Regions from separate parts of the Homo sapiens genome. Here region 1 is linked to region 2. Evidence: fine-mapped expression QTL. A gene starts in region 2. The other region holds a variant in brackets. All regions are shown on one strand. Distances are from middle to middle. Region 1 has its middle 2.8 kb from the start of GEMIN4. Region 2 holds the start of GLOD4 (glyoxalase domain containing 4).

Region 1 (2,500 bases), 27 kb after region 2:
CCAGCTCACATTCCTTTCCTTATTTGGAAAGAGGACTAACTTTCTAGCTCATTACAGACACCCCTTCCCCTTCCTCTCCGCTTTCTTTTACGGGCCCACCCTATCTAAAAAAATCAAATGTTTAGCCAAGCGCGATTAGTTTAGATTGTACGACCTGACCCCGGCCAATGGGGAAAGGGTAGAGGGGCAGGACTTGTGTCAGGAACAAAGGCTCTCGTGCCCCTTTGTTCAGGTGTGCTCTCATGACAACTGGCCAAGGAGGCACCCCTCTGCACAGAAGTAAAATTGCTTTGCTAAGAATCCTTTGTTCGAGTGTTCTATTTCCTTAGGATTTTGAGCATTATTCCTAACAAGTATTTAAAAGGGAAAGAGCAGGAAGGGAGGGAAGAGGGAAAGGAAAAATACAGGAGGGTAGGTAGGGAGATAAGTGGTTACATTCTTATTAGGCTTTGATCAGCGCTCACCAAATCTACATGTCACAGTGAAAGGAGGGGGTAGAGGAACAGTCAGTTTTGCATTCAGCTCAGTAAATCTACATTTAGCACTCACCAAATCTACATGTTACAGTGAAAGGAGCAGGCAGAGGAACAGTCAGTTTTGCATTCAGCTCAGTAAATCTACATTTAGTGCTCACCAAATCTACATGTTACAGTGAAAGGAGCGGGCAGAGGAACAGTTACGCATTCAGCTCAGTAAGTCTACATTTAGCACTCACCAAATCTACATGTTACAGTGAAAGGAGCAGGCAGAGGAACAGTCAGTTTTGCATTCAGCTCAGTAAATCTACATTTAGCGCTCACCAACTCTACATGTTACAGTGAAAGGAGCGGGCAGAGGAACACTCAGTTATGCATTCAGCTCAGTAAATCTACATTTAGTGCTCACCAAATCTACATGTTACAGTGAAAGGAGCGGGCAGACGAACAGTCAGTTATGCATTCAGCTCAGTAAATCTACATTTAGCGCTCACCAAATCTACATGTTACAGTGAAAGGAGCGGGCAGAGGAACAGTTA[T/C]GCATTCAGCTCAGTAAATCTACATTTACTGCTCACCAAATCTATATGTTACAGTGAAAGCAGCAGGCAGAGGAACAGTTATGCATTCAGCTCAGTACATCTATGTTTTGTCTCGGCTGGTGAGGGATGGTTTCTGGTGTTGTCTTTGTCCCTTACCTATGAAGATAAGCTGTTAATTTATATTGTCAGGTGAGGGAGACCACCTGGGGAGATATGTGGCCTTCTGTCTTGTAGCTTATCTGTTTAGGAACAAAAGGAAGTTTTTTGCATATTCCATGACTCAATTTCCAAGCTTAACTTTTCCTTTTCGCTTAGTGAATTTGGTCCCAAGATTTTATTTTCCTTTCACAGTATACCCCATGCCCATCAATCCCATTCCCCCTGCATCCTATAGGTAACCTCTTCTTAAGCAAATACAAATAGATAAATCCTTATTTTCTGTTTTTTTTTTTAAAACTTTATTTTACTGTTACTTTCTGCTGTCCTAATTATGGCACATTTTTACTTTCTAGGTTCTGTGATTTACAGAGTGGTCTGGCTATGTGGACAGCTTCTAAATTGTCACCACATTTTGGAGCAAGATGTATTATTTTTACAATTAATTTACATTTAACATGAATCATGATCCTAAGTGCATCAGAATGTCTTCATAACATTCGCCAAAGAAGAGAGGGCAGCACTGCTGTTCTACAGTGTGGCTCTCACCTGGTCCACAGTTACCAGAAATAGTTCTTTCGTTGCTGTGATGTCCTGGGTGGGCTTCATTCTTTAGTAATGTACTTTGTCTACAGCAACTTCCTGCAACTATGTGAACAGATCTTGAAGACACACAGTGAGGTTTGGTTTCCTTTGTCCTCTTAAGTCTTTATGGTTGTTGCTTCTATTGTTTATTGGTCCCAGTGAGAACTGCAGCTGACCTGATGTCATGATCTGTGAAGATAGTTTCTATTAAAGAAGAAGTACCAGGAAATCCCATATGCCACCGTAGACCTGCCTTTCTGGATACCATTTACTACTCCATACTCCAGCCGCCATGCACAATGGTTGTGTATGAGGCTCCTGTGATCATTAACAGGAGTAGAAGCTGGGCTCAGACACTCTGGCACTTGCATAGGTCAAGGGGTGTGTTGTGCTCTTGCAACAAATCCCACATAGACATCCATATGCATATTGTCCCACCGTCCCCTAAGCAGAAACCAGGGTTAAGTACAGAATAGTCCCGGGAACATTTTGGTTGCCCGGCCTTAGGTGAGCCTTTCTGGGGCTGGGATTTTGACACCATCTGCTCCATTGTTTCTAAACTGCTGTGTTCTGGCGCATCAATTGTTTCATCACATTATCATCACGGAAAGCTTGGTCTCCCTCAAAACATGAACCGGGTAGGCCCTGTGTTCCAGTGGGGGCTTTTGGACTTGACTTTAGTGTTTAGGAGGACAGAGTCCCTCTCCCCTCTGTGGTGCTGGGGTATTAGTAAATCAGCCTTGA
Region 2 (3,025 bases):
TTTTGCAAAAATGAAGGGCTCAATCTTTCAGTAAACGCTTTCTTAATTTTTAATCTGACATAGAAAGTTGAAGAAGTAATCTAAAAAATAGAAGGTTTGAGGAATAGTGGTTCTTCCTAGAGACCATAAAGAGCCACAACACAAATGATAGTGAAAAACGGGTTTCAATTTCCATTGAAAATACTCTAAGATACACAGGTTTGAGAATTATATTTTTCTAATTGTAACATTTTGAATTTCATTTCAATGCTGCTGTCCTAAGACAAGTATGAGAAATTAATCCTAGGTCTCCACACCTTAAGATACACTGTGTAAGGCCAGGCATGGTGGCTCACGCCTGTAATCCCAGCACTTTGGGAGGCCGAGGCAGGAGGATCACCTGAGGTCACAAGTTCGACGTCAGCCTGGCCAACATGGTGAAACCCCACCTCTACTAAAAATACAAAAATCACCCGGGCATGGTGGCAGACGCCTGTAATCCCAGCTACTGCGGAGGCTGAGGCAAGAGAATCCCTTGAACCCGAGAGGCGGAGGTTGCAGTGGGCCGAGATCGCGCCATTGCACTCCAGCCTGGGTGACAGAACAAGACAAAAAAAAAAAAAGATACACTGGGTAATCACTAACCCATTATTCCTTGTGGCGTTACGAGGTCGGACCAATCCTTGATATCCTCAAATTTCACCTTAATGAGGCTGACACCTTTCAGCTTATCGACTGGCAACTCCTTTAGGTATTCTAGACGGCTAAAGAAGAACATTTTTGGCACAGCTCCAGCCTTGAGAGCGTCTGAAATGAGCCTGCGACCTTCCAGCAGGATCTTCCCTTGTTTTTCCCGAAATGGCCTGGACTTTACTATTGTCATTACACTGCTGTAGATGGAAATAAAAAAAAAAAACAGGTAACTATCAACATCCTTGTTACTGAGACACGCTTAGTTGTAACAGAAATAAAGAGCTACGGAGAGGGCCGGGCGCGGTGGCTCACGCCTGTAATCCCAGCACATTGGGAGGCCGAGGCGGGCGGATCACCTGAGGTCAGGAGTTCCAGATCAGCCTGGCTAACATGGTGAAACAAAAACAACAACAAAGAGCTAAGGAGAAACAGAAGCTAATTCCAAAGACGCTTATTCGGCCCTCTGTGCATAATACAAAAACCAGCGGGCTGTACTGGAAGAAGTCCTCCATCGGAAGGAGGTTAAGGTTCCGCTGTGCGACGGGAAGGGAAACGAGAACATTCGACAGGCTCAAGAACCACATCACCTCAGCCTCCTGTCCCCGGGATAAGCTTTATCGTAGCGAAGCCCAGACTCTTCCCAGGTGCTGGGAGCGCGGGATGCGGACTCCTCGAGCGGTTGTTTCTCTCGTTGCTCCTGGGCACTGGCCTCAGATGGTGCCTTGCGGGGCTGCTTCCCAGGAGCGCGCTTCTGTTCCACCACCTCTCCGGAAGGAAACACCACTTTCACTGGGCTCCGCCGCAGCGCCCGGACCCAGCGCCTCGCGTCAAGGTCCCAAGCCTGGACCACCTGCAGCAACGGTCGCACGACAAACCTCGCGGGTCTCACCAGCGCCGCCATGTTCCCTGAGACCCGGGCTGCGTCACGAAAGCGCGCCGTCGGCGGCTAGTGACGTCACGGCCCGTGGCGCCCTTCGTGGACTGGGCTGTACGGTGCGCGTGACGGCTGCGTGCGGCGGGAATCATGGCTGCTCGCAGAGCTCTGCACTTCGTATTCAAAGTGGGAAACCGCTTCCAGACGGCGCGTTTCTATCGGGACGTCCTGGGGATGAAGGTGCAGGCCGGGGCCGACAGGGGCTGGCGCGCGAGGCTGGAACCGGCGCCCGAGCCGGCCCTGGCGGAGGGAGGGGAAAATGGGTGTGTCGTGAACCTAAGCCGGAGGGTGTCCGACCTTAGGCCCTGCGCGGTGTTCAGCTTCAGGAGCGTGGCGAGTTGCCGTTGGGGATCATAGGCCTTGGAGAAGGGCCTAACACGATTAGTCCCCGCGGTGTGCCCACGCACGTCCTTTCATTTAAGCCACTCGTAAACGTTTATTGAGCCCCGCCCTTGTGGAGCTTACCGTCTACCGGAAAAGACGGTAAATAAAATGTTATATAATGCTTTCTAGTTAATATTTGTGTTTTCCGGTTTGGAGCCTTTGATGTAGATAAAATCAGCGTATTCAGAGTTCTGCTTCTAGCAAGGCTGGTCTGAATAGTCCGTTTCGGATACTCAGTCTCTGAATATATGCTCCAACTCTCAACCCATCTGCTTTTCAACAGCACCCAGAAGCGGTCTGTCTCGGGTCCTGAGGAGCTGTTATTTGCAGGATTCAGTTGGTTGGGGAACTGGGTTTTGGGGACCTCCTTTGATAAGCCAGGGAGGTAGGGAACACACCACTAAGGAAGACTTGAAAGGTGCAAGAGCGCGGTTTAGTGTATAGACGGTGCAATAGACGGGGATCTGAATTCGTCAGGTCATTTTTAAAATATCTGCTATTTTCAGGGTACTACGTTGAGTTTTGGCAACAAAGGTGCAAATGACCCTGATATATATCCTCCATTAGAGCTCATGGCCTGGGTTGGGGTGGGAGTTGGAACTGGATTTGTACGTAGATGATGGTAATGGAAGTCAGAATTTGATAGTGAAAAACCACCAAACTTTCGATAGCAGAAACCACAGAGCTGTCCCTTGTTAGTATTTCCTCGTCGATCAAAAGGTTGTTGCAAAGATTAAACACGTGCCGGCGCGGTGGCCCACGCCTGTAATCTCAGCACTTTGGGAGGCCAAGGCGGGTGGATCACTGGAGGTCAGGAGTTGGACACCAGCCTGGCCAACATGGTGAAACCCTGTCTCTACTAAAAATACAAAAATTAGCCGGGCATGGTGGCACACGCCTGTAATCCCAGCTACTCGGGAGGCTGAGGCAAGAGAATCGCCTGTATCTGGGAGGCGGAGGTTGCAGTGAGCCGAGATCGCACCATTGTGTTCCAGCCTGGATGACGAAAGCAAAACTCCGTCTCAAAAAAAAAAA

Evidence for each region. PIP is the estimated chance that this variant, and not a neighbour inherited with it, causes the effect.
Region 1: its variant is fine-mapped to the expression of GLOD4 in whole blood (TOPMed, PIP above 0.99). The same link has a PIP of 0.9 or more in blood mononuclear cells.

The regions. Positions count from the first base shown.
Region 1 is chr17:753,853-756,352 of GRCh38, reverse strand. It overlaps a transcript of GEMIN4 not described here and the pseudogene DBIL5P. Among named protein-coding and RNA genes, the nearest start is that of GEMIN4, 2.8 kb to the right of the region's middle. The variant T/C (reference allele first, on the strand shown) is at 1,016.
Region 2 is chr17:780,927-783,951 of GRCh38, reverse strand. GLOD4 (glyoxalase domain containing 4) reads left to right here and starts at 1,672. Exons shown (of 9, transcript NM_016080.4): 1 at 1,672-1,786. The coding sequence starts at 1,697. It overlaps MRM3 (mitochondrial rRNA methyltransferase 3), which reads right to left and starts at 1,599. Exons shown (of 4, transcript NM_018146.4): 1 at 1,260-1,599; 2 at 625-869. The coding sequence starts at 1,573. RefSeq lists enhancers at 1,072-1,620, 1,292-1,641, 2,642-2,741.